7 linked regions of the Homo sapiens genome follow. The protein of the gene in region 2 purifies or fractionates together with the protein of the main gene of each other region. This does not show direct contact. Each region holds a gene or a part of one and is shown on either strand. Other genes may lie near its edges. The genes, in order: SLC25A20, POLR3E, CHM, ACAD11, SLC25A19, TRMT1L and FMNL1.

Region 1 (3,500 bases), on a different chromosome or scaffold from region 2:
GAGTGCAATGGTGCAATCTCGGCTCACTGCAACCTCTGCCTCCTGGGTTCAAGCAATTCTCCTGCCTCAGCCTCCTGAGTAGCTGGGATGCATGCGCCACCACGCCCGGCTAATTTTTGTATTTTTAGTAGAGATGGGGTTTCACCATATTGGTCAGGCTGGTCTTGAACTCCTGACCTCGTGATCCGCCCGCCTCGGCCTCCCAAAGTGCTGGGATTACAGGGGTGAGCCACCACGCCCAGCTATTATTATTTTAATAGAGACAGGGTATCACTATTTTACCCAGGCTGGTCTCAAACTCCTGGGCTCAAGTGATCCTCTCAACTCAGCCTCCCAAAGTGCTGAGATTACAAGTGTGAGCCACCATACCCGGCCCCCACAGATTTCTTGAATGTAGAAAAGCCAAGCTTGGCACTAGACCCTTCAGGGATTCTTGAGAAGTTCCTTAGCAGCCACATCCTATTTGCAACAATCACTTTGCAGCTATGGGATGCTGCTCTGGGCCAAGCACTGGTGTAAGTGAGTACAAACACACATGATATAATTTCATTAAAGTTCCCTCAGCTGGGCTTAGTGGCTCACGCCTATAATCCTAGCACTTTGGGAGACCAAGGCAGGTGGATCATCTGAGGTCAGGAGTTCGAGACCAGCCTGGCCAACATAGTGAAACCCTATCTCTGCTAAAAGTACAAAAATTAGCCAGGCATGGTGGCACACACCTGTAACCCCAGCTACTCAGGAGGCTGAGGCAGGAGAGTCACTTGAACCCAGGAAGTGGAGGTTGCAGTGAGCTGAGAATGCACCACTGCATTCCAGCCTGGGTGACAGAGCAAGACTCTGTCTCAAAAAATAATAATAATAAGGCCGGGTGCGGTGGCTCACACCAGTAATCCCGGCACCTTGGGAGGCCGAGGCAGGTGCATCACCTGAGGTCAGGAGTTTGAGACCAGCCCGGCCAACATGGTGAAACCCCATCTCTACTAAAAATACAAAAAAATAGCCAGACATGGTGGCATGTGCTTGTAATCCCAGCTACTTGGGAGGCTGAGGGAGGAGAATTGCTTGAACCTGGGAGGCAGAGGTTGCAGTAAGCCAAGACTGTGCCATTGCACTCCAGCCTGGGCAACAGGAGTGAAACTCCATCTCAAAAAATAAAATAAAAATAAGTAAAAAAATAAATAAGGTTTTCTCTCAGTGTGAAAGTCCATGTGGGCAAGTGACATGCCCACAGTTATAAGCACAGTTGTTGTATCTGGCCTTCCTCTAAGCTGCCAGCTCAGGACAAGAGTGAGACTGTCTCTGCCTTTCCTACTGCCACTATAACAGGACATACTTCTCAAAACCAGGGAGATCACCACTGTCCCCAAGTCACACTTTCTTCCCACTCCTCCCTCCAGAGATGATTTCTATCTACTTGCCACTCCCCTCCAACTGTGATGCCATGACTTCTACCCCTGCAGACACCTGGGAAAGATGGAAGGTCCCCTCATCCTAATCTACGTCCATGCTGGCCAGGGGGAGATGCTTACTGCCAGTATTGTCAGAGATGTGACATGCATGGTGCCAAGGCTAATCTGGCAATCCAGGCAAGACCTTCTGCAGCAGACCCACCTCAGGTGACCTCCCCAGGTGACCTCAAGTGGAGGCCTGAAAGGTTACCTCGCATAAGGGTAAGCACAGTCCCTTTGTAGATGCCTCGGATCCCAAACTCCTGGTACAGCTTCTTTGCACAGTCCAAGGTACCAGTGTACTTGCTTTCTCCTGAAGAAGCCTGAATCTGGGAGGGAGGAGAGGATCATTAAGTCAGAAACATCAGAGTCACAGACCCAGCAGGTTACAGGAGACTACAAAGTAAGTATGGCCATTATGTGTTACAGCAATAAAAGACTTCACTGTCAAATTGATAAGTATCTGGAATGTGTGATCTTGGGGCAGGTACTATGAAATAAGGCTAGGTGAAAATATCAGAAAACATTCACATTGACTAGAAATAAAACCAACAGAAAATTTGAAAAACAAGTTGAGGAGGCCGGGTGCAGTGGCTCATGCCTATAATCCCAGCACTTTGGGAGGCCGAGGCAGGCAGGTCGCCTGAGGTCAGGAGTTTGAAACCAGCCTGGTCAACACGGTGAAACCCTGTCTCTACGAAAAATACAAAAATTAGCTGGGCATGGTGGTGGGCGCCTGTAGTCAGCTGCTCAGGAGGCTGAGGCAGGAGAATCGCCTGAACTTGGGAGGCAGAGGTTGCAGTTAGAAAACATATCGTACCACACTGCACTCCAGCCTGGGCAGCAGAGTGAGACTGTCTCAAAATTTAAAAATAAAAAATAAGTTGAGGAAATCTGTCAAACACAATAAAGCTATTTGGAAGGTCTAAAAAGGAAGCGACAAATACTTTAGTCATTCATTTATTCCTTCAACAAATATCCCCTGAAGACCAACTGCATTCCAAGCCTACCTGGTCATGAGAGTTGGTTAAGAAAAGGTGAACAGAAAATTTCACTCAAAGCTCTAAGTTCCCAGACAGGGGTCCTGTTCAGAGAGGGCTCCTATGCAGAGCCAGAGGAGGGCCAAAGAGAGGCTCCTACCCCGCCCCTGAGAGCCAAGAACCTGGGGGTAGGCAGGGGTAATCCCAGGAAAGATCTGAAAGACAGCTCCATGCAGGATCCACACAGGGATCCCGCTTGTTCAGGACCAAGAGGAGTCAGAACACACAAGAGCATCAACCAAACAATAATTAAAGCTGGAAAGGGAGTTCAGCTTTAACAGTTCCAAAGAGAAACACTTACAAATACATAAACCAAATAGCTTTCTTACATATCAGGATTAACCAGTTAAAAAATAATAGAAAAGGCCGGGCACGGTGGCTCACACCTGTAATCCCAGCACTTTGGGAGGCTGAGGCGGGCAGATCATGAGGTCAGGAGTTTGAGACCAGCCTGACCAACATGGTGAAACCCTGTCTCTACTAAAAATACAAAAATTAGCCAGGCGTGGTGGTACATGCCTGTAATCTCAGCTACTCAGGAGGCTGAGGCAGGAGAATCGCTTGAACCCAGGAGGTGGAGTTTGCAGTGAGCCGAGATCGTGCCACTGCACACCAGCCTGGGAGACAGAGCACAACTCTATCTCAATCAATCAATCAATACAAGAAATGGATCCCATTCAAAATAGCAATAAAAGCCGGGCACGGTGGCTCACGCCTGTAATCCCAGCACTTTGGGAGGCCAAGGCAGGCAGATCACCTGAGGCCAGGAGTTCGAGACCAGCCTGGCCAACATGGTGAGAGCCCCCATCTCTACTAAAAATACAAAACTTAGCTGGGCGTGGTGGCAGATGCCTGTAATCCCAGCTACTCAGGAGGCTGAGGCAGGAAAATGACTTGAACCTGGGAGGCGGAAGTTGTAGTGAGCCGAGATTGCACCACTGCACTCCAGCCTGGGTGACAGAGTAAGACTCTGTCTCAAAAAAAAAAAAAAAAAAAAAAAAAAAAAGCAACA
Region 2 (3,500 bases):
TGTTCCTGCATCTGGGCTGGGGCAGACAGGGAGGGATGAGGCAAGCAAATGGATCCATGGGGTAGAGATGGACAAGCAACTCACCCCTGGGCCTTGGTCAGTTTCCCCCCCAGACTGCTGCTTCCCCGGATGAGCAGAAGGTGTTTGCCCTCTGGGAGTCTGGAGACATGAGTGATCAGGTGAGGTGAACTTTGCTGCCATCTTCCCGAAGAGCCAGGGGGGTTTCCTGCAGCGTTGGAGGCCTTGGGGGACATGTGCACCCAAAGTGCAGCCACACATTTCAGATTTTCTGGCACACTCGGTTTTAAATATCCTGCTCCAACTCTGTACGCTAACAAAATAAGCTGTATGTGCCAATAGTTTGAACCTAAACCAGTGGTTCCCAGATGCCAGTCTGTGAGCCAGCTCCATCAGAATCATCTTTTAAAAAATACAGGCTGGGCGTAGTGGCTCACGCCTGTAATCCCAGCACTTTGGGAGGCCAAGGTGGGTGGATCACCTGAGGTTGGGAGTTTGACACCAGCCTGACCAATATGGTGAAACCCCATCTCTACTAAAAATGCCCATAGTCGTGGGAGGCTGAGACAGAATTGCTTGAACCTGGGAGAGAGAGGTTGCAGTGAACCGAGATTGCACCACTGCACTCCAGACTGGGCGACAGAGCAAGACTGTGTCTCAGAAAGAAAAAAAAAAAAAACATAGATTCAGTTCTGTTCAGTAGGTATGCGGTACTGTCCTAGGTATCTGAATTTCTGTAAAGCTTCCTGAGCAACTCTGATCCAGCCAGGCTTATAGAGCACTGGTGAAGCACATTTCTCAGGCGGCCTCTGGCAGCAGGAATCAAAAGGATTCCTTGTCAGATGTCAGGTCCTGGACTTTTAGGTTAAAGAAATTGGTCATTTTGCCTCTAGTCATACTGTGATGGGGAGGGTCACAGGTGTCCAGTGCCCAGAAATGTGAGTGGAAGCAGCAGCGCCTTGCGTGTGTGTGGTGTAGTCATGGACCCTGCATCCCAGCTTTTCTTAGGCCGTGAACGTACCTAATTTGATGGTCGAAACGCCAGTCGGTCTGACCGTGTCTAGGCCCTGCTCCTAAGGTGTGGGGAGAAGGGAGTCAGCAGAAATCCCACTGAGCTCTCTGTCCCCAGCTGCCTCTTAGGGGAGCCAACTGGCAGGCTGAGGATCTAAGGGGCTGGGGCCTTTTCCTGAGCAAGCTTGAGTGCTTTTGTCCAGAATAGAGGGTATCTGAAATACTTTGATAACAAAAAGGCAAAAAAACAAAAGTCATAAATGCAGATTTTTAAACATCAAATCAGACTAGAAGTTTTAATAGGAAAGCTCTTGCACTGCTGGACCTGACTGCCACCCCTCAGAGGTGACCACTTTTATTACTACTTTTTTAATAGAAACAGGGTCTCACTATGTTGGCCAGGCTAGTCTTGAACTCCTGGCCTCAAGCAGTTCTCCTGCCTCAGCCTCCCAAAGTGCTAGGATCATAGGCATTTACATCACCAAAAGATACCACTAAAATAGCTGCCCCCATTTAAAAAAAAAAATCAGCCTGTCATTAGCAATGGGCTTCCCATTGTGGTGGATGAGATTTAGCTCTCAACTATTTTAGGAGACTGTAGAGATAGATATGTTACGCCAGTTTTTTTTTTTTTTTTGAGATAGATAGCGTCTTGCTCTTGCTCTTGCTCTGTCATCTAGGCCTGGAGTGCAGTGGTGCCATCTCAGCTCACGCCTCTTGCGTTCAAGCGATTCTTGTGCCTCAGCCACCCGGGTAGCTGGGATTACGGGCTTGTGCTGCCTCACCCAGCTAATTTTTGTATTTTTAGTAGAGATCGCGGTGGTAGGGGTCGGGGGGTGGTCCCACCATGTTGGCCAGGCTGGTCTCGAACTCCTGGCCTCAAATGATCTGCCTGCCTTGGCCTTCCAAAGTGCTGGGATTACAAGCGTGAGCCACCACACCAGGCCTTTACCTCTTTTTAATTGGCTATCATTGTTTATAGCATTGTCACAGAATGAACTGAAAATCTATCCATTGTAGAGCCAAACATCAGTAATATACTATGATTGCATTTCCTTGTTCACTGCTTCCTGTTTTCACTTGTGTAATTTTCTGAACACATGTGTACCGAGGGTGATACTTTGCTTAATTAAGCCTGGTTCCCGGGAAGCCTCTCCCTCTGCTTCTCCAGTGAGACTCGCTCTTCCCCATGTCTGTTGCTGAATTCTGGAATCTCTGCTTCTTCCTTGCTTTAGCTTCTGAAGAGACAGAGGAGTTGTCTGCATTCTTTCATGTCTTAAAATGGATTACAATACAGTATTACTGTTTGTCTGGGACTAGAATTTTAAGAGGCAAAGGATACTTCATGTAGCAGTCAGCTGTTTACATGAACCATAGCAAAAAAAAAGGAGAATCAAATCCATCTCCTCTTAATGTTTGCAGAAAGATGCAAACAAAACCAGCTAAGTATGGAACAATGTGTGAGGTTATCAAAGTTTCTATTTTTACGTGATCAAATGATTTGCCTCTCAAAATTCTAGTCCTAGACAAATAGTGATACATGAAGCATCCTTTTTTTTTTTTTTTTTTTTTTTTTTTTTTTTTTGAGACAGAGTCTCCCTCTGTCAGCCAGGCTGGAGTGCAATGGCACGATCTCGGCTCACTGCAACCTCCGCCTCAGCCTCCTGAGTAGCTGGGATTATAGGCGTGTGCCACCACGCGTGGCTGATTTTTGTATTTTTAGTAGAGACGGAGTTTCACCACGTTGGACAGGCTGGTCTCGAACTCCTGACCTCAGGTAATCCGCCTGCCTCGGTCTCCCCAAGTGCTGGGATTGCAGGCGTGAGCCTCTGCGCCCGGCATGAAGCATCTTTAAGAGAGTTTCCATTGTTTAAGTTTTCAGAGTTGTTGAAATTCCATAACATTCTCCTTCTTGGTCTTTTAAATTTGGCCTGTATTCTTTCCTTTATGCCAAACTGCAGAATTTTTCATTATTCTGTATATCAGTCAGTGCCATTTCAGCTGTGCCCTGGTGCGGGTCATTATTGTACTAGACAATTGAGTTCTTATAAAATCCTGTGAGTTGTTACTTTTTTTTGTTTTTTTCAGAATTCTTATGACAGATATTAGACATACTGAATCCAATCTTTTCCATTTTTATTTTGGGGTGTAACGTATTTTACGGCATCCTGTTTCATGGATGCAGTGGCATGTTTGTGCATTAAGACTTCACACCAATTTTGACACCCTCTTCTCATCTCCGTGCAGCTTAGATTGTCGCTTCACCTGCTTGCTAAGTCCGATGCACGCCTGCATTTTACCATGCAGAAATATGTTCAAGCCACTCATCCTCTCATGTCTCTTCACCAGTTCTTTTGTTATGCTGGCATATACCTTTGTTTTTATTTATATTCAAGTTTCCAGACATAGCATTAATGCCTTTACTTTTGTGTTTTTATTTCTGTACACTGTCTTGCTGGGTCTCTAGAGAT
Region 3 (3,500 bases), on a different chromosome or scaffold from region 2:
GGTTATAATGTGATCCTACTGTCCCTGATTTGTGTGACATTATAAAAGGGGAAGTGAGGGAAAGGGGACTAAAGAGATGGGGAGGGGCTGTACACTGGGAGGTAGGGATAGGAGCAGCCTGAGAGGCTAGTAAGTTAAGTTCTTCCATTACTCTGGCTTGAACTATATCTGCAGTGGGTAGAAAGGTGAGGCAAGAGCTATATTCCTTGGTTCTTTCCATTTCCCATGAATCTGTGACCTGCCACAGCTGGCTTCCTTTAAGAACATCTCTGAAACCTGGTGAGGTCAGGGACCAGCTGCAGTTGAAGTATGTAAGAACTATGTACTTTACATTGGAGCCATGGCTTCCTGACAGACAATATAGGCCAGATGTTGTGAGAAAAAAAAACAAATAGTTCATTTGTTTGTTTATTTATAGGCAATTATAAGTCTCAACTATTGCTCAAATAAAGTAGACCATCAGAGCTTGGCCATTTGAGAAAATTTAAATATAGGCAACATCACTGCAGCTTAGTTTGCTGCCTATGTACAGCCCCCTTTTTTTTTTTTTGTGAGACAGAGTCTTGCTCTGTCACCCAGGCTGGAGTGCAGTGGCAAAATCTTGGCTCACTGCAACCTCCGCCTCCCTGGTTCAAGTGAGTCTGCTACCTCATCTTCAAAGTAGCTGGGATTACAGGTGCCCACCATAACACCCAGCTAAAATTTTGTATTTTTAGTAGAGACAGGGTTTCGCCATGTTGGCCAGGCTGGTCTCGAACTCCTGACCTCAAGTGATCTACCCACCTCAGCTTCCCAAAGTGCTGGGATTACAGGCAGCCCTAACGTTTTTATGTAGTGTATATTAGGGCTTACCAACTGTCATACACAATTTGGAGTCCTTGGTGGTTGCAGGTTTACCTACCAGAAAAGGAATAAAACAATTTATAGAGTGTTTTCCTTAGTAATATTTCAAAACCACAATTCTACTTGTTACTATTTTTACTGGTCTGTAAGACTATAAAATACTACTTTAAAAAAGAAATTTTCATTTAAAAAGCTTAATGCAATAAAAACACTGTGATCTATTTTGTTTGGAAGTTGACTGACAGCAAGCAATTATTTCCTGCGTGAGACTTTTGAGATTCATCAAGTCAATGGGAAAATTCTAAAACAATTTTCTTCTGGCAAACCGATTCTAAACATGGCATTGCATTGTCTTCATAACCATTCTCATATAGTAGGCATAGTAATACTATTTCCACTTTATATATGGAGAAACGTAGGCTCAGAAGTTAAACAATTTACCAAATATCATCAGTAGGACAGCCAGGATTAAATTAGGTCTGTAGACAATTAGCCTAATACTCTAGTTACTTGACAGACAGAATATTCAAATACCAATGAGCCTATCCACACCTTTCCTTCCATTCTTTCATTTCTTCATTATTGACCTTTCCCAATATGTAAATAATTTACAAACAAATATCACTACTGATACTAAAAAACACTACTGACTTATTCGTAAAAATGTCTAAACACCTTTATATTAGCATTTTCAATGCTTCTCAACATAGAAAGCAAAACAAACCTGTATTCCAAATACAGGCTTCTATCTAGATCATGATACTTTAGTTTTTCTATATGTTTTTATCATTATGTTATGATGCTCTTGTCCATAAAGAAAATAAAATTCAAATAACCAAAGAAAATACATGAGCTGGTTCTGAAAATGTGGCTTTCAAACAAAGATCCAAAGTGGTAAGCAAAATTGTCCTAAGACCATGGAATTATTAACAATGCATAGGATCACTTTCATATCCACAGTTACATTCCTGAGAATCAATTGATTTATAATTTTCATCTGCTAGTCACACAAGTTTGGTATTTAAAATGAGCAAGTCAATGTGCTTTATAAGTGTTGTGTGTTCTTGGAATGTCCTCTATAAGGAAAATCCCCTTTTGGATTTCTATTACCTATTTTGCCTTATAATTGCTGCTGCTTTCTAACATTTCTCAAACAGTCCTTCTATCAAGTAGACTCTGAGACCAGTCAGAATTTCCAAAGTTGGGTATCCAGTTTGGTGTATATCCATTATTCAGAGGACTCCTCTAGGTTTCCAAGGTTTGTGCTTTCCTTGAAAGTCTCCGAGTTAGCCTCTGGTATGGCACTGGATTCTGAAGCCTCTGGCTGTAAACTGTCTCCATCAAGGATAATGTCTTCAGGATTTGGTGGAGGGGGACAGAAATCTTCATTGGGGCAGATTTCCTGGAAAAGTGTTTCAGCCTGGCCAAGGAAGAAAAGATAAAATCGTTTTTGGAAATCGGTTTAAAATGTGTGTGCATTTCTGGCATTAACTAAAAAAAAATAAGTGTTTTATCCTTAAAAATTTGCTTAAACAGGCTACAGTACTTAATCAGAATACATGAACTTCCGTAAGTCTGTTTTCAGAATTCTATGACTTCTCCCTTTAATTCTATACATGTATTGAGGTCCACTCTTCAAGGATGGCAGTACCTCATCAGGTTCATTATCAAGTGTTCAGATTGTTGAGAACTGAAATACATTCATTCTATATATCAATAGAAATACAATTTCCTTAATATTGTTTATATGATTTCTTATAGAGCCTTGATATGGTTTGGTTCTGAGTCCTCACCCAAATCTCATCTCAAATTGTTATCCCCACGTGTTAGGGGGTGACTAGATTATGGGGGCGGCTGTTCCCATGTTGTTCTTGTGATAGTGAGTTCTCAGAATATCTGATGGTTTAAAAGTATTTAGCAGTTCCCCCTTTTCTCTTTCTCCTGCCACCATGTGAGATGTGCCTTGCTTCCCCTTCACCCTCTGCTATGATTGTAACTTTCCTGAGGCCTCCCCAGCCATGTGGCCTTGTGAGTTAAACCTTTTTTGTTTACAAATTACCTAGTCTCAGGTAGTATCTTTATGGCAGTGTAAGAGGCACTAGCATTGAGAATTGGTACCAGGAGTGGGGTACTGCTAAAAGATAACCTGAAAATGTGGAAGTGACTATGGAATTGGGTAACAGGCAGAGGTTAGAACAGTTTGGAGGGCTCAGAAGAAGAGAGGTAAATGTGGGAAAATTTGGAACTTTCTAGAGACTTGTTGAATGGTTTTGGCCAAAATGCTGATAGTGATATGAACAATGATGTCCAGGCTGAGGTGGCCTCAGATGGAGATGAGGAACTTATTGGGAACTGGAGCAAAGGTGACTCTTGCTATGCTTTAGCAAAGAGACTAGTAGCATTTTCTCCCTGCCCTAGAGATCTGTGAAACTTTGAACTTGAGAAAGATGATTTAGGGTATGTGGCAGAAAAAATTTCTAAGCAGCAAAGCATTCAAGAGGTGACCCAGCTGATTCTGAAAGCACTCAGTCATGTGTGTTCACAAAGAGATGCCTTCACATTGGAACTTATGTTTAAAAGGGAAGCAGAGCATAAAGGTTTGGAAAATTTGCAGTCTGACCATGTGGGAGAAAAGAAAAAACCATTTTCTGGGGAGG
Region 4 (3,500 bases), on a different chromosome or scaffold from region 2:
ATGGTGCTGGGATAACTTGCTAGCCATCTGCAGGGGATTGAAACTGCGCACCTTCCTTACATCTTAGCCATTTTTTTGACGTTTAATTGTCCTTTTATTTTCCTTTCTTTTCTTCTTTATTATTTTAAGTTCCGGGATACAAGTGCAAAATGTGTAGGTTTGTTACATAGGTATACAGGTGCCATGGTGGTTTGCTACACTTATCTACACGTCATCTAGGTTGTAAGCCCTGCATGCATTAGCTATTTGTCCTAATGCTCTCCCTCTCCTTGCCCCCACCCTCCAACTGGCCCCGGTGTGTGTTGTTCCCCTCCCCATGTCCATGTGTTCTTATTGTTCATCTCCCCACTTATGAGTGAGAACATGCACACCTTGGCCATTTTTATGCTTGGTCATGTTTGCCCTTCAACAGGGGATATTTGATTAGAGTTTCCCTAAAGCGGTGATGTTCAACATGATAGCTACTAACCATATGTGGCTAATGAGCATTTGAAACATACCTAGTCTGAACTGAGATGTACTATAAGTATAAAATATGCACCCCATATTGAAGAATAAATATTAAAATATAAAGTATCTCATTAATAATTTTTATATTGATTTCATGTTGAAATAGTATTTTTGATATATTGGGTTAAATAAAATATATTATTAAAATTAATTCCATCTTTTTCTTTTCACTTTTTAAAAATGTTGCTATTAGAACATTTAAAATAACATTTAAGGTTCATAGTATATTTCTTTTGGATGGCACTGCCCTAGAGGTTGAAACATGGCTCTGAATTAATTTCAAACAAGTTGCTGGTGGTGAATAAATATTTTTTGATGGCTGTAAAACAGGATAATTACAACTTTATAACTTCATGAACAGACTTAGAAGACATTTACTTCTCAGCTTTAGAATAAAGGAGGTATTCTCAGTTGGGTCTCTATAGACCCTAGATTTGCTGAAAAGCATTAAATGGGTAGAAACTAGGTGCTCTAGGGAACTGCCAAATATATTTCCTAAGACAGAACTGGGATGGAGAATTTTTTGCGTTACAGCCTGGAGTAAATTAGAAGGCAGCTGGAAGGAGCCTCCAAATTCAAAGAAATGAAATGTTCCTTTCACAAATTAAAATAAAAAAGCTGGCCCAGATTTTTGCTTATGACATGCTCACACATCTTTTTGTTTCTGCCAGATCACGTTATTTGTGCCAGATGTGAAAAGTTTCCAGTGAAAACAGGCATATTTGTTAAAAAGCCAGGCTTGCTCTGCATGACACATTAACTTTAAAAGGTGGAAGGGAAATTTTTTACTAATGCAGTATTAAAACACCACTCAGGAAAGCAGCACTTGCACAGAGGGCTTTTGTGCATTCGCGATGCTTGTTTGTCGACTTTACTGTGTCCTCCCTTCACCCTGCTCCAGAGTTTGCATGCAAGCTTGACAAAAGGGTAAGAAGTAATGGTTGGTGCCCTGAGCACCTCTTCATCCTTCTTCAACAGCATCAGAGGCTGTATCCAGGGCCCCAGAGGGTCACACTTTCTCACCTCCTCCCACAGTGCCCAGCCAACAGCTGAACTTTGCTGTATACTAAAAACTTGCCTTCGCTGTATACTAAAAGGGCTCCTGACAAATTATTCCCAGGTGTAGTGTCATAAAGCGGGCTGTAGCTTTTCAGTTAAAAAACTATACAAATAAATCATATAATGCTGAATAATACTTTACAAAAAGCAAACATAGATTATAATAATTTAAGGTAAAAAATACATACTGCAAATTTCATAAGATGGTCAAAAATGTATAAGGAGACCGACATACTAAAATATACATGTGCAGCAAACACAAATACAATTCCATCACCACAGATTTGACCTAACACTAACATGTTAGCAATAATAAAGAGTGAACATTTAATAATAGTTTTTCTTGCCTTCTTAAAACTTAGAAGGGAGATGATGTGGATATCCTACTTCTCTGTAGAAGACTTTTTAAGGAAGTCTGAAATAATACCTTCTATTTCATCTCAATACATATTTCCTAATTTTTTTTCTTTTTCTGGAGACAGAGTCTCGCTCTGTCGCCAGGCTGGAGTGCAGTGGCACGATCTTGGCTGAACGCAACCTCTGTCTCCCGGGTTCAAGCAATACTCCTGCCTCAGCCTCCCCAGTAGCTGGGACTACAGGTGCACATCGCCATGCCTGGTTAATTTTTTTTGTTTTTTTTTGTATTTTAGTAGAGACGGGGTTTCACCATGTTGCCCAGGCTGGTCTTGAACTCCTGAGCTCAGGCAACCCACCCGCCTCGGTCTCCCAAAGTGCTGGGATTACAGGTGTGAGCCACTGCGCCTGGCCATATTTCCTAATTTTTATTATATGGGCCACATGTAACTATGTTTACAGTGATTTGTAACAACAGACTCAGTAGTATATAATTTACAGATGATAATTCAAAAAGTCATGAATATCTCACAAAATGTTGGTCCCATTTCTACTTGTGTTTCTCCAGTGACAGAATTCAAGTCCTCCTGAAGAAGCTGATTCCACTTTTAGGTTTATTAGCATGTTTCTCCTTTCCCTGAGTTTTGGGCTGTTTTCCTGTAACTTTACACTTATGTGTCCTAATTCCTTCTAGGAAACCAATGGACAAGGCAAATCCTTCTTCCTTATGACAGCTCCTTCATGTCCACAGGGAGCTCTAATGTTCCAGGTTCTCTAAAGAACAAGAATCTGAGAAAGTTGAAGGAACTGTCTACACTCTTGTGTGCAGAGGTGTTGAAGCATTTTAGGAACTATTTAATTTTTCATAAAGATAAATACCTCTCATTAGACTATATTTAAATACAGACATAAATATGCCTTATTGAAAAGAATCACCCGGTTCATGTAGAGAAAGTCTGTCTCTCACAAGTAATGTTTTTGTTCAATGTTAGTGTAGTGCACCGGGCTACAATAAATTCAAATAAGTAATCGTCCTCACATGTGCATACAACTTCTTCTTGAAAGCTATCCTTTGTGTTGCCCGCTCACACATGATCTGCAAAGCGCGTTCCGCCAAACCTACTGTTCTCATACAGTGGTGGATTCTGCCAGGTCCAAGGCGGCCTTGGGAAATTTCAAATCCCCTACCTTCACCTGGGAAGAAAGGGGAAAAAAAGGGGGAATGTGAAAATGGCCTAGCCCATTCCTTTTGTTATTTATACAAATCCTGGGAAAGAGATGAGCTGCCCTTAATAAAAATGGCTTTCTAGTGAAAAAAAGTCAGTTCTATAATAAGGTTCACTATGAATTCATGGGAATTTTGATTTCTATGTTTTTAAAACCACCACCATTAAACATTTCAAATTTCAGAACTGTCTCTTAAGTATGTACTATGCATAAGCTATTTTATTAATGCTGCAATAGATACAAAGTTGGAATAACACATAGTCCCTGTACTAGGAGTTTAGAATCCAGAAGAGTGGGTAAGGGTAAGAGATACAGAGAGAAACAAAGGCAAAGGAAGAAGAGATTTTCTG
Region 5 (3,500 bases), on a different chromosome or scaffold from region 2:
ATATTCTCTGATCATTCTAGAATCTAAAATCCAACATGTCAATAGTTGAAGCTAGAGGTAATATGCTATTATCTTTTTTTTTTTTTTTTTTTGAGACGAAGTCTTGCTATGTTGCCTAGGCTGGAGTTGCCTAGGCACAATCTTGGCTCACTGCAGCCCCCACCTCCCAGGTTCAAGCGATTGTCCTGCCTCAGACCCCCGAGTAGCTGTGATTATAGGCACCTGACACCACGCCCAACTAATTTTTGTATTTTTAGTAGAGACGGGGTTTCATCATGTTGGCCAGGATGATCTCGATCTCCTGACCTTGTGATCCGCCCGCCTTGGCCTCCCAAAGTGCTGGGATTACAGGCGAGAGCCATCGCGCCCAGCCCAATTCTTTGTTTTTTTTGAGACAGGATATCTCACTTTGTTGTTTGGGCTGGAGTGCAATGGTGCAATCATGGCTCACTCTCCAGGCTCAAGCAATCCTCTCAACTCAATCTTCCAAGTAGCTGGGACTACAGGTGCACACCACCATGCCTGGCTAATTTTTTTGTATTTTGTAGAGAGCCATGTTGCCCACATCAAACTCTTAAACAAATTATCCTTCCTTTCCCACTAACAGTATCCTAAAGCAGAGTTGAGACAGTGGAAAAATTATTGTTTATAAGCCAGGTCTGGTGGCTCAGCCTTGTAATCACAGCACTTTGGGAAGCCAAGGCAGGAGGATCACTTGAGCCTAGGAGTTCGAGAACAGCCTGGGCAACATGGTGAATGAAACTCCATCTCTACAAAAAATACAAAAATTAGCCAGGTGTGGTACCAAGTGCCTATGGTCCCAGCTACTTGGGAGGCTGAGGTGGGAGGATTGCTTGACCCCAGGAGGTGGAGGCTGCAGTGAGCTGTAATCATACCCCTATACTTCAGCCTGGATGACAGAGTGAGACTCTGCCTTAAAAATAAAGAAAAAAAGCCCAGGCATGGTGACTCATGCCTGTAATCCCAGCACTTTGGGAGGCTCAGGTGGGCGGATCACTTGAGGCCAGCAGTTCCAGACCAGCCTGGCCAACATGTCAAAATCCCATCTCTACTAAAAATATAAAAATTAGCCAGGCATGGCCAGGCGCGGTGGCTCACGCCTGTAATCTTAGCACTTTGGGAGGCAGAGATGGGTGGATCACAAGGTCAGGAGTTCAAGACCAGCCTGGCCAACATGGCAAAACCCCGTCTCTACTAAAAATACAAAAATTAGCCAGGCGCGGTGGTGGGCGCCTGTAATCCCAACTACTTGGGAGGCTGAGGCGGGAGAATCACTTAAAACTGGGGGTGGAGCTTGCAGCCTCAGCGACAGAGTGAGACTTCATCTGAAAAAAAAATTAGCTGGGCATGGTAGCGGACCTGTAGTCCCAGCTGCTTGGGAGGCTGAGGCATGAGAATCACTTGAATCTGGGAGGCGGTCACAGTGAGCTGAGATTGTGCCTCCAGACTGGGCGACAGAGCCATACTCCGTCTCAAAAACAAACAAACAACAACCAAAAAAAAAAAAAAAAACCAGGAGTTCAAGACCAGCCTGAGCCTGAGCAACATAATGAGACCCTGCCCCTACAAAAAATAAAAAAATAAAAAATTAGTCAGGTGTGATGGCACACACCTGTGGTCTTAGCTACTTGAGAGGTTGAGGCAGGAAGATTGCTTGAGCCCAGGAGTTCGAAGCTGCAGCAAGCTATTGCAGCCATTGTACTCCAGCCTGGGTGACAGATCAAGACCCTGTCTCAAAAAATATATATAAATAATAACAATAAAATTATTCTTTCTTGGTTGAGAACACACAGACACACATACATATGATGCTATTCTTAAATATGTCCAGGAAACAGAGATCATGGTGGGGAGGTCTATTTCAGGATTTAATCCCTTGTTTTCACTCAGTAAATTCTTCCTCGAGTCTATCCCATTTCCACCAGCCCATTCTTTGTGGAAACCAAAGACACTCGCAATTGGCCGGGCGTGGTGGCTCATGCCTGGAATCCCAGCACTTTGGGAGACAGAGGCCAGGGGATCACCTGAAGTCAAGAGTTTGAGACCAGCCTGGCCGACATGGTGAAACCCTGTCTCTACGAAAAATATAAAAATTAGCCGGACATGGCATCACGTGCCTGTAATCCCAGCTACTCAGGAGGCTGAGACAGGAGAATCGCTTGAACCCAGGAGGCAGAGGTTACAGTGAGCTGAGATTGCGCCACTGCACTCTAGCCTGAGCAACAAAGTGAGACTGTCTCAAAAAACCAACCAACCAAACAAACAAAAAAACAAAGACGCTCTCATAATAATCCAGCAATAAATTCTCAAGTGGGCAGTCCTTGATCCAGCCCACTGCTGGGTAATTATTTGTTCTGTTTCATAGCAGTAGGTTCTGTCTTCCAGGGAGGCTGTGAGCTCCTTTGAGGCAGGGACATAGAGCACCCCGCACAGTGCTGCCCACAGTCATGGGTTTTACAAACTGACTGCCAGACAAACTGAAAACCCGAACCTCTCCCAGCTTTGCTTTCTGCAAGGACAAGAACTCAACCTCTGCCGAGTGCGGTGGCTCATGCCTGTAATCCCAGCATTTTGGGAGGCCGAGGCGGGCAGACGGCTTGAGCTCAAGAGTTCAAGACCAGACTGGGCAACATGACGAAACCCCGTCTCTAAAAAAATACAAAACTCAGCCAGGTGTAGTCTCAGCTACCGGGGAGGCTGAGGCAGAAGGATCACTTGATCCCAGGAGGTCGAGGCTTCAGTGAGCAGTGATCATGCCACTGCACTGCAGCCTAGGCAACAAAACAAGACACTGTCTCAAAAAATATATATATAGGCCAGGTGCGGTGGCTCACGCCTGTAATCCTAGCACTTTGGGAGGCCGAGGCGGGTGGATCACCTGAGATCAGGAGTTCAAGACCAGCCTGCTAACATGGCGAAACTCTGTCTCTACTAAAAGTACAAAAAATAGCTGGGCATGATGGCAGGCGCCTGTAATCCCAGCTACTGGGAGGCGGAGGCAGGAGAACTGCTTGAAATCAGGAGGCAGAGGTTGCAGTGAGCCGAGATCTGGCCATTGCATTCCAGCCTGGGCAATAAGAGCGAGACTCCGTCTCTTGAAAAAAATAAAAATAAAAATAGGTCGGGCACGGTGGCTCACGCCTGTAATCCCAGTACTTTGGGAGGCCGAGGCAGGCGGATCACGAGGTCAGGAGATCGAGACCATCCTGTGACTGGTGAAACCCTGTCTCTACTAAAAATACAAAAAATTAGCTGGGCGTGGTGGCGGGCACCTGTAGTCCCAGCTACTCGGGAGGCTGAGGAGGGAGAATGGCGTGAACCCAGGAGGCGGAGCTTGCAGTAGCCGAGACTGTGCCACTGCACTCCAGCCCGGGCGACAGAGTGAGACTCTGTCTCAAAAAAAATAAATAAATAACTAAAAATAAAAATAAAAATAAAAATCATATATTTAAAAAAAACATGCTTATCAAATAAAAGAA
Region 6 (3,500 bases), on a different chromosome or scaffold from region 2:
TAAGGAACATGACAGAATTTCCTCCATTACCACCACCAGTTAACATTATACTAAAGTACTTGCACAAATGAAAAGCATATCATATTTGTAGGAAGCTTCAAAAATCACAGTATCTATTCTCCCCAATTTAATGTCATCAAAATAATATGCCAACTGGGTTATTATTTACTTTTATATTAAGGGATTAACAAAAGAGCAATACAGGAACACTGAAAACAAAGAGCTTTGAGTAGGGATTGCCATCACAGATATTAAATGACACTGAAAAGCCTCTATAGTCAAAACAGTATGATAGACGTGTATGAAGAAATATCCAACCACTGGAACAGAACAGAAAATCTAGAAGCAAACTCAAATACATGTGGAAATTTAGTATAAGATAAAGAAGGTATTCTCAAATCAGTGGAGGAAAGGTGTACTATTCAATACAACCTAATCTACTTTGAATAATCCAGGAATAGGAAAGCTCTTTCTAACTACAGGCAAAATCCAGACTACATAAACATTCAATTAGCAACAAAAAACTTCTGCAACACAGATTAAAAAAAAAGTGACAAAATGAGAAAAAAATCTGCAACTTAACATAGTAAGTGCTAAACTCAAAAATTCATAAAATACCAAGAACCTAACAGAAAACAATAAGCAACTGTTTCCATGTCCCAGAACTGAAACAAACAGAAAGAGCTTTATGAAGGCATAAACTACAGCTTTTTCCTTGTTTCCCATCCCCAGGCCTGGCATATAGTAGAGGCTCAATAAATGTTTATTGAATGCATTTTATAACTGATGGCTTTTATACACAGCCAGAAACATGAAAATTATTTTTATAAAATTAATGATTTGTAACAGCCTGGAAAAAACGTAATCTGACTTATGTTCCTAAAATTAGTTGAGAGTGGAAACTAAGTTATTTCTAGATGTTTCGATAGAAGGCAGAGCTAGAAAGCATATATTGTACAGCATGAGTAAATAACTTTAATAAACTCACACGAATGTCTTGTCTGTTGACGAAAGGAAATCCAGTATAGGAAATAACAAAGTTAGCACTGTAATCTTTAAAATCAAAGGACAACAATATGTATAATTAGGTATGTGATAAAGGCTTATTCAGTGGAGGATTATAGATAAACATAATATATAACTTGAATTTACCTTCTACCATATTACCATCCTTCTGAAAAATTCTCTCTTCACACCACTGACAATGGATCAGGTATTGAATCTTCTTGGCTGTTTCATCTGCTGAAGTAGGTCCCCTCAAAACTCTCACAACTACCAACACAAAATGTTCCAGAGCCACTGCAAACAGTACTTCTATGCCTTTGTTGCATCGGGCTGCAGCTCTACAATAAATTTTTTCAAGTTATTTTGTGGGCTTATCATTTTCCCTTGTTTGGCATTATACTGACAATATTAACCTGGACAGTATACTATGGATAAGTTATGGGACATCAAGAAAAATTCAATTCTCAGTAGCAGTGCTTTTAAAAGATCATTACTGTAACTTTTACAGAAATTGAAACACAGGAAATAAAAGATGCTTGGGAGGGTCTTCAGTTTCTAGACATTTTCCCTTGCGATATCCTCTCAATAGGGCAATATTTTCTGGTTTTCAGTCATTTTCACTTTGTTTCTTATCATCACCACCACATTGCTTCCTTTTTATCTATTTTATTTCCTATAAAAGCTTCTTTCAAACAGTATCTATTTATTGAGTAATGACTATATGCAGGATAGTATGCTAGCTACTGAAAATTGAGTGAAAAAAGAACAGTCAAAGTCCTTTCCACCATTAATTTCACAGACTTTTTGGATTAAGCTCTACTATATACCATTTATGTACTCTGCAGTCATATACTACATTTAATTTATATATATTACTCTGAATTTGCTGATATTACATTATAGACATTTTTAAGTATGTGCAGTTAAGTCCTTAGCATGCATACAGTAAACATCAGTTTTCAGGTAATTAGAAACAACCCTGAAGGTCTATGAAGTCTAATAATCTGTATTTATCCTGAGGTAGAAATTTCTACTTAAATGCTCTGAAACTAGTATTGGGGCTGGCAAGTGAGCTGGCTGATTATCCATTATCTATATTCACAATATCCGTTTATATTATATTATTCTAGCATAATCTGCATATAGTAAGTGCTCAAAAAAAGTCATCCTTTTAAAAAATAACTGTTTTCAAATTCTGTTTGGAAATCCTGGTGAGAAATGGAGAGAACTTCCCATTTTGTAAGACCATTTTGCAGAATCAAGTTTGTAAGCCATCATTTTATTCAAACTATATAAATAAAGAAGATAAAACAGAATGGATATAAAAGAAATGACTGTTTCTTTCTGAGGCAGAGTCTCACTATGTTGCCCAGGCTGGAGTGCAGTGGAGCAACCTTGGCTCACTGCAGCATGTGGCTCCTGGGTTCAAGTGATTCTAGTGCCTCAACCTATAATCGTAGCTGTGATTACAGGTGTGTACCAACATGCCCAGCTAATTTTTGTATTTTTAGTAGAGACGGGGTTTCACCATGTTGGCCAGGAGTCTTGTTTCATCCTGGGCAACATGGTGAAAAAACAAAACAAAACAGTTTTTGCTTTTCCTTTCATATAGCTATCCTTTATCCTACATTGTTGAAATAAACTGGAAATTAACTTTCACTTTTACCTTTTCTTTCTTATACTTTATTTCAGTAACATTTTAATTGGAGAGTAAACTGAATATTTCAGGTATAAACTTTTAAATAAAATTACAACAGATACCACGTAAGATTAAAAACCAGTATTACAGATAAGGAATACAGAATTTATATTTTGTGCATATTTTGAATAAGGTAAGTACTTCTTGTAATATTATCTCTTTTTATCAAATACTGAAACACACTAAGTACACTGTTGGCAATTTGGTACCTTGCCACTGCAGCTACAACAATTCTGGCTGCTAGTTCCTTGTAATATTCAGTTCGGACAATGTTACATCCGTAGTGACGCCGGGCAACATGCTGTGCCTTGGCATATAAAGAACTGATATCTGTAGAAGTCACTGACACTATGCCAAGGTTTCTTATATTTCTGAATGCAGAATCTAGATAATTCACTGATGTTCCAAAAGGGTCTAGATGTCTAAAATCAGAAAGAATATAGACATTTTAAAGTCATATTAGTAACAAAAATTATACCACTGTAATTATTTCTAATTATAAAATTCCATGGATTTAAAAATACATTGCAAATATATTTTAAGTACATAATTCTGTTTTGAAATTAAGTAATAAAATGATAGTATGATGTATCAGACATGTAAAAATAAATTCGGGTTAGAGGAAAAGTCACATGCCCAGGCATTTTATTTCAAATACTAGAAAATTTTCATACTGCATACCTTAGGCCAATGTCAAAAAATGGCATTAATTTAAATAAATAAACAACAAAAAACTGTCTTAATTTTTAACTACTCCTCGTCCCCAAAATTTCAGATAAGTTTAGAAAGTGACACG
Region 7 (3,500 bases), on a different chromosome or scaffold from region 2:
GAACTCAGTCTAGCCAGCAGGTGGTGCCCTCCCTGGACCAGAGCTGGCATACGGCGGGGAAGGACGGCTGGAGGTGCCTCGTGAAGGGGACCCAGCACCTGGGTAGGACTCGGACCCAGCCGCCCTGCACATCTGCGTTGGCAGGAACCTGCGTGCTCCTCTCCTGTGCTCAGTGATGCAATTCCTAATCCCCCCACCCCACTGCAGGCTCCAGCGGCCACTCACACAAAGAGGCAGGGACCACGGCAAAGACCCCTCCCCAGAGGGGCCCCCACCCTTCCAACCCAAACCCCTCAGATTCGCCGAGCCACCCCTCAGACTTTCACTTCTTCCAGCCCTTTGAGCCCCCAACCTCTGAGATGTCAGGCTGAGCTGCTCCAAGGGGACCCCTACCAGAGACTCCAGGGGCAGCTCTCCACCCTCTTCCCACTTCCCAGCCCTTACCCCTGGACTGCTGCCCAGCCGGCTCAGGCCATCTGCTTCATTAGCAGGAGGCAAAGGCCCAGCCTTGGCTCCCAGGGGAGGCTCTCAGCTCCCAACTCCCCACCCCCAGCCTCTGCAGCCTCCCTCCTTCACAGAATCCCTGCGGCAGCCGAGCCCCACCCAGCCCAGCGCTGGGAGAGGGTCGGCCCATGGCCGACCGCAGCCCTTGAAGCTGGAGGGGTGGGGACAGCTGAGTGACCCGTGAGTCCAGGCACCTGGACGGAGCACCAAAGCAGGGGTCCAAAGTGGCTGGCCTTGGGGAGTTGCTGGTCAACTGCAGCTCCTCTGGACCCAAGGCAAAAGGGCAGGAATTCCCGCCCCTTCCTCCCTCCCTCCCATGGGGTCAGGTGAAGATGTCCAACCCCAGGGTCGCCCTCTCCCTTCCCCAGTCCAGAGAGGTTTCTCAGGAAGCTCAGCAGGAGGACAGTGACAGTGCGAGGCCCCAGCTGCCCCAGCCTGAACCAGCTCTGCCAGCTCCTCTGAAGCTGACCCAGCCCTGCTAGTGACTCACAAGGTCTTTTGGGGAGTTCAAGAGAAAGGGATTTGGGAGTCCTGCAGACCCCAGCACCCTCCCCAGGTGCTACATTGGCCACTGAGCAGAGTCTTGGCTCCATGGGCAGTATGGCGGTGCCCCTCTCCCCATAGCCCCAGCCTGGTCAGGGTGGGGTACTGACAGTGGGAGGGAAGGGGTGGCTGGGCAGTGCTGGCACCTACCTGATCACAGATGAGCTCCCACTTCTTCTCGTTGTCATACTGGCTCAGCAGCTGGACCTTGTCTGGGGGCAAGTTCATGCAGTTCTGGGGACAGGGAGGACAAAGACCCCTGAGCCTGGGGCCCCAACAAGGGGAGAGGGGAGAATGGGCATTTGGGGGAAACCCACTTGGCTCCCTAGGAGGTGCATCACCCCCATGAATCCTCTGACCCTAGGAGATACGTAGTGTTATCCAATGAGAAGACCAAGGCCAAGAGAGACAGAGCACCTTTCCCGGGGCACACCAGCTAGAAGGGAGAGCAGGATTTGAATCCGAGTCTGCCTGCGCTGTGTCACCCCCCACACCGCCTCCCTGGCCTGCCTGGTGTGCAGGCAGGAGCGTGGGTTGTCAGCCTACCTCTCTGGGGACCTGAGACACTTCTGGGCCCCAGTTTTCCTGTTGGGGCATCATCTCTTCCCCCATTCTGGTGGGAAGCTAACAGGGGAGCCATCACCAGTCAGGCCAAAGTGTGGCCAGTGGCCAGTGGCCAGTGTCCCACCTCCACGTGCCACCAGATCCCACGTGTACACAGACCAGGCCCAGGGCACCAGTGCCTCACGAACACCAGGAAATCTCTTGCAAGGAGAGTGGACAGCAGCCTTCTCCTCATCCCTCTCCAGCCCCCTCCCACTTGGAGGAGAAGGCTGAGAAAGGAAGGAGAGGGCTGGGGGAGCTGAGGGCGGCCATGTCAGCAGGCAGGGAGTTCCAGATCACAGCTGCAGGGGCGGGGAGATTTGCGGGGAAGGTCACTCGGCCACAGCACTGGGGAGAAGAGCCAGTGCCCTGGGTCTGTGGTGGGGGCCGCCCAGCTGGGACTCCCCCAGGAGCTGAGAAAGGTCAACAGAGCTCTGCCTGGGTCCTCCTCCCCTGGCCACAGATGACAAGGGTACGGTGCCCCTGCCACCACGGAGCAGGTTAGCGCCAGCCCAGGGCTGCCGAATCAACCAGGTGTCAATAGCACCAGGGGCTTTCTGGACCCCCAGACTTGGCTTGTCTCCCTGACAGACCCAAAAGATGAGGCCAGTTCCCTTCAATTTAGTAAACCCCAGGTTATTGAGAGCCTTCTATATGTCTGGCCCAAAAAGACAGTTCCTGCCCTCAAGGAGATCTGAGTTGAGTAAGAGTCTCCATCGGGGATGTGGGAGACCCTGAGGGGCTCACCAGCCATGGTGGTTCACGCTCCACACCCTCAGTCATGTGGCTCTGCAGAGACGCCACAGCTGGAGCAGTCAGAGGGCCACACCCACCTGAGACTCCCCAGCCAGCTTCCCCTCCAGGGTGCTGGGCCTAGTTCTGGGGCTCCAGCCAGACCTTACCCCCAAAATCACTGCCTTGGGTCAGGCCCAGACAACAGGAAGCTGGGTGCGCTCAGCCTCCATTGCCTAAGCTTTCCGGCCAGGCCCTGCTGGAGAGGTGAAACTGCCCCTCCGCCAGGCCCCCCGCCCCCAGCGGCTGAAGGGGGTGGAATACGTCATTCCTCTCCCCTATTGCGAAAGTGAGCCTGGATTGAGGAAACCACCGCTGTCTCATCAGCCGCCCTCCCCCAGCCCTCCAAGGGCCAGGACAGCTCCTGCTACCACAGGGGCAGGGGGTGGGGGAACCGCCCAGGAGTACAAAGGAGGCGAGGTCATTCTCTGTCTCTCTGTCCCTGTCCATCTGTCTGTCTCTCTCGATGATGTCTCTCAGTCACCCCCACCCCACAGAGACAAAGGGTGGGGCAGGGCTAAGGTGGGAGCAAGGTGGAGAAAAGGGACAAAGAGGAGAGACAGGGCCAGCAGTGCCAGGGAAACTGGAGCCGTGGCCGGCACAAAAGACGGTGGCCAGGGAGTAAGGGGATGGCTGAGCCCAGCACAGAGCCACAGAGGGGACAGCTGCTTCCCGACATGAATCCTCCCAGGCCCTCACCCACCCAGGGAACTTTATGGTTCTGGAATGGCCCCAGCGGCATTTCTAGGGGCAGTAACTAGTCATAATGACATCTCCAACAGTCAGGTGGCCAGCTCCACCAGAATGCCTACTGTGCAAGGCACTGCTCCGAGCCCTGCGCGCCGACGACTGCCTTCCACCCTCACTGCCGTCACTGGCACCGTTAACATTCCCACCTCACAGGTGCAGGCACAGATTAGTTTAGTGACCTGCCCAAGGTTACGAAGCCAGTAAGAGGAGAGCTGGGCTGGCTTTGAGCCTGGAGCTGACTCTGAGCCACCACCTGGGTCCACTCCCCCAGGACAGCCCCCTGGTTGTTACTGCCGAGGGGAGGCCTC

The links.
Region 1: the proteins of POLR3E (region 2) and SLC25A20 purify together in Homo sapiens (affinity purification with mass spectrometry; 2 studies listed by BioGRID and IntAct, with this or other methods). This does not show direct contact.
Region 3: the proteins of POLR3E (region 2) and CHM purify together in Homo sapiens (co-immunoprecipitation; one large-scale study listed by IntAct). This does not show direct contact.
Region 4: the proteins of POLR3E (region 2) and ACAD11 purify together in Homo sapiens (affinity purification with mass spectrometry; 2 studies listed by BioGRID and IntAct, with this or other methods). This does not show direct contact.
Region 5: the proteins of POLR3E (region 2) and SLC25A19 purify together in Homo sapiens (affinity purification with mass spectrometry; one large-scale study listed by BioGRID and IntAct). This does not show direct contact.
Region 6: the proteins of POLR3E (region 2) and TRMT1L purify together in Homo sapiens (affinity purification with mass spectrometry; one large-scale study listed by BioGRID and IntAct). This does not show direct contact.
Region 7: the proteins of POLR3E (region 2) and FMNL1 purify together in Homo sapiens (affinity purification with mass spectrometry; one large-scale study listed by BioGRID and IntAct). This does not show direct contact.

What each region holds. Positions count from the first base shown.
Region 1 is NC_000003.12:48,860,883-48,864,382, forward strand, and holds part of SLC25A20 (mitochondrial carnitine/acylcarnitine carrier protein), read right to left. Parts: intron 1,778-3,500; coding exon 1,660-1,777; intron 1-1,659. UniProt on the Homo sapiens protein: Mediates the electroneutral exchange of acylcarnitines (O-acyl-(R)-carnitine or L-acylcarnitine) of different acyl chain lengths (ranging from O-acetyl-(R)-carnitine to long-chain O-acyl-(R)-carnitines) with free carnitine ((R)-carnitine or L-carnitine) across the mitochondrial inner membrane, via a ping-pong mechanism.
Region 2 is NC_000016.10:22,328,409-22,331,908, forward strand, and holds part of POLR3E (DNA-directed RNA polymerase III subunit RPC5), read left to right. Parts: exon of another isoform or gene 1-101; coding exon 102-179; intron 180-3,500. UniProt on the Homo sapiens protein: DNA-dependent RNA polymerase catalyzes the transcription of DNA into RNA using the four ribonucleoside triphosphates as substrates.
Region 3 is NC_000023.11:85,862,559-85,866,058, forward strand, and holds part of CHM (rab proteins geranylgeranyltransferase component A 1), read right to left. Parts: intron 2,264-3,500; coding exon 2,072-2,263; 3' UTR 1-2,071. UniProt on the Homo sapiens protein: Substrate-binding subunit of the Rab geranylgeranyltransferase (GGTase) complex.
Region 4 is NC_000003.12:132,572,810-132,576,309, forward strand, and holds part of ACAD11 (acyl-CoA dehydrogenase family member 11), read right to left. Parts: intron 3,118-3,500; coding exon 2,963-3,117; intron 1-2,962. UniProt on the Homo sapiens protein: Acyl-CoA dehydrogenase, that exhibits maximal activity towards saturated C22-CoA.
Region 5 is NC_000017.11:75,279,434-75,282,933, forward strand, and holds part of SLC25A19 (mitochondrial thiamine pyrophosphate carrier), read right to left. Parts: intron 1-3,500. UniProt on the Homo sapiens protein: Mitochondrial transporter mediating uptake of thiamine diphosphate into mitochondria. It is not clear if the antiporter activity is affected by the membrane potential or by the proton electrochemical gradient.
Region 6 is NC_000001.11:185,136,454-185,139,953, forward strand, and holds part of TRMT1L (tRNA (guanine(27)-N(2))-dimethyltransferase), read right to left. Parts: intron 3,127-3,500; coding exon 2,914-3,126; intron 1,344-2,913; coding exon 1,153-1,343; intron 1-1,152. UniProt on the Homo sapiens protein: Specifically dimethylates a single guanine residue at position 27 of tRNA(Tyr) using S-adenosyl-L-methionine as donor of the methyl groups. Dimethylation at position 27 of tRNA(Tyr) is required for efficient translation of tyrosine codons.
Region 7 is NC_000017.11:45,228,385-45,231,884, reverse strand, and holds part of FMNL1 (formin-like protein 1), read right to left. Parts: intron 1,282-3,500; coding exon 1,198-1,281; intron 1-1,197. UniProt on the Homo sapiens protein: May play a role in the control of cell motility and survival of macrophages. Plays a role in the regulation of cell morphology and cytoskeletal organization. Required in the cortical actin filament dynamics and cell shape.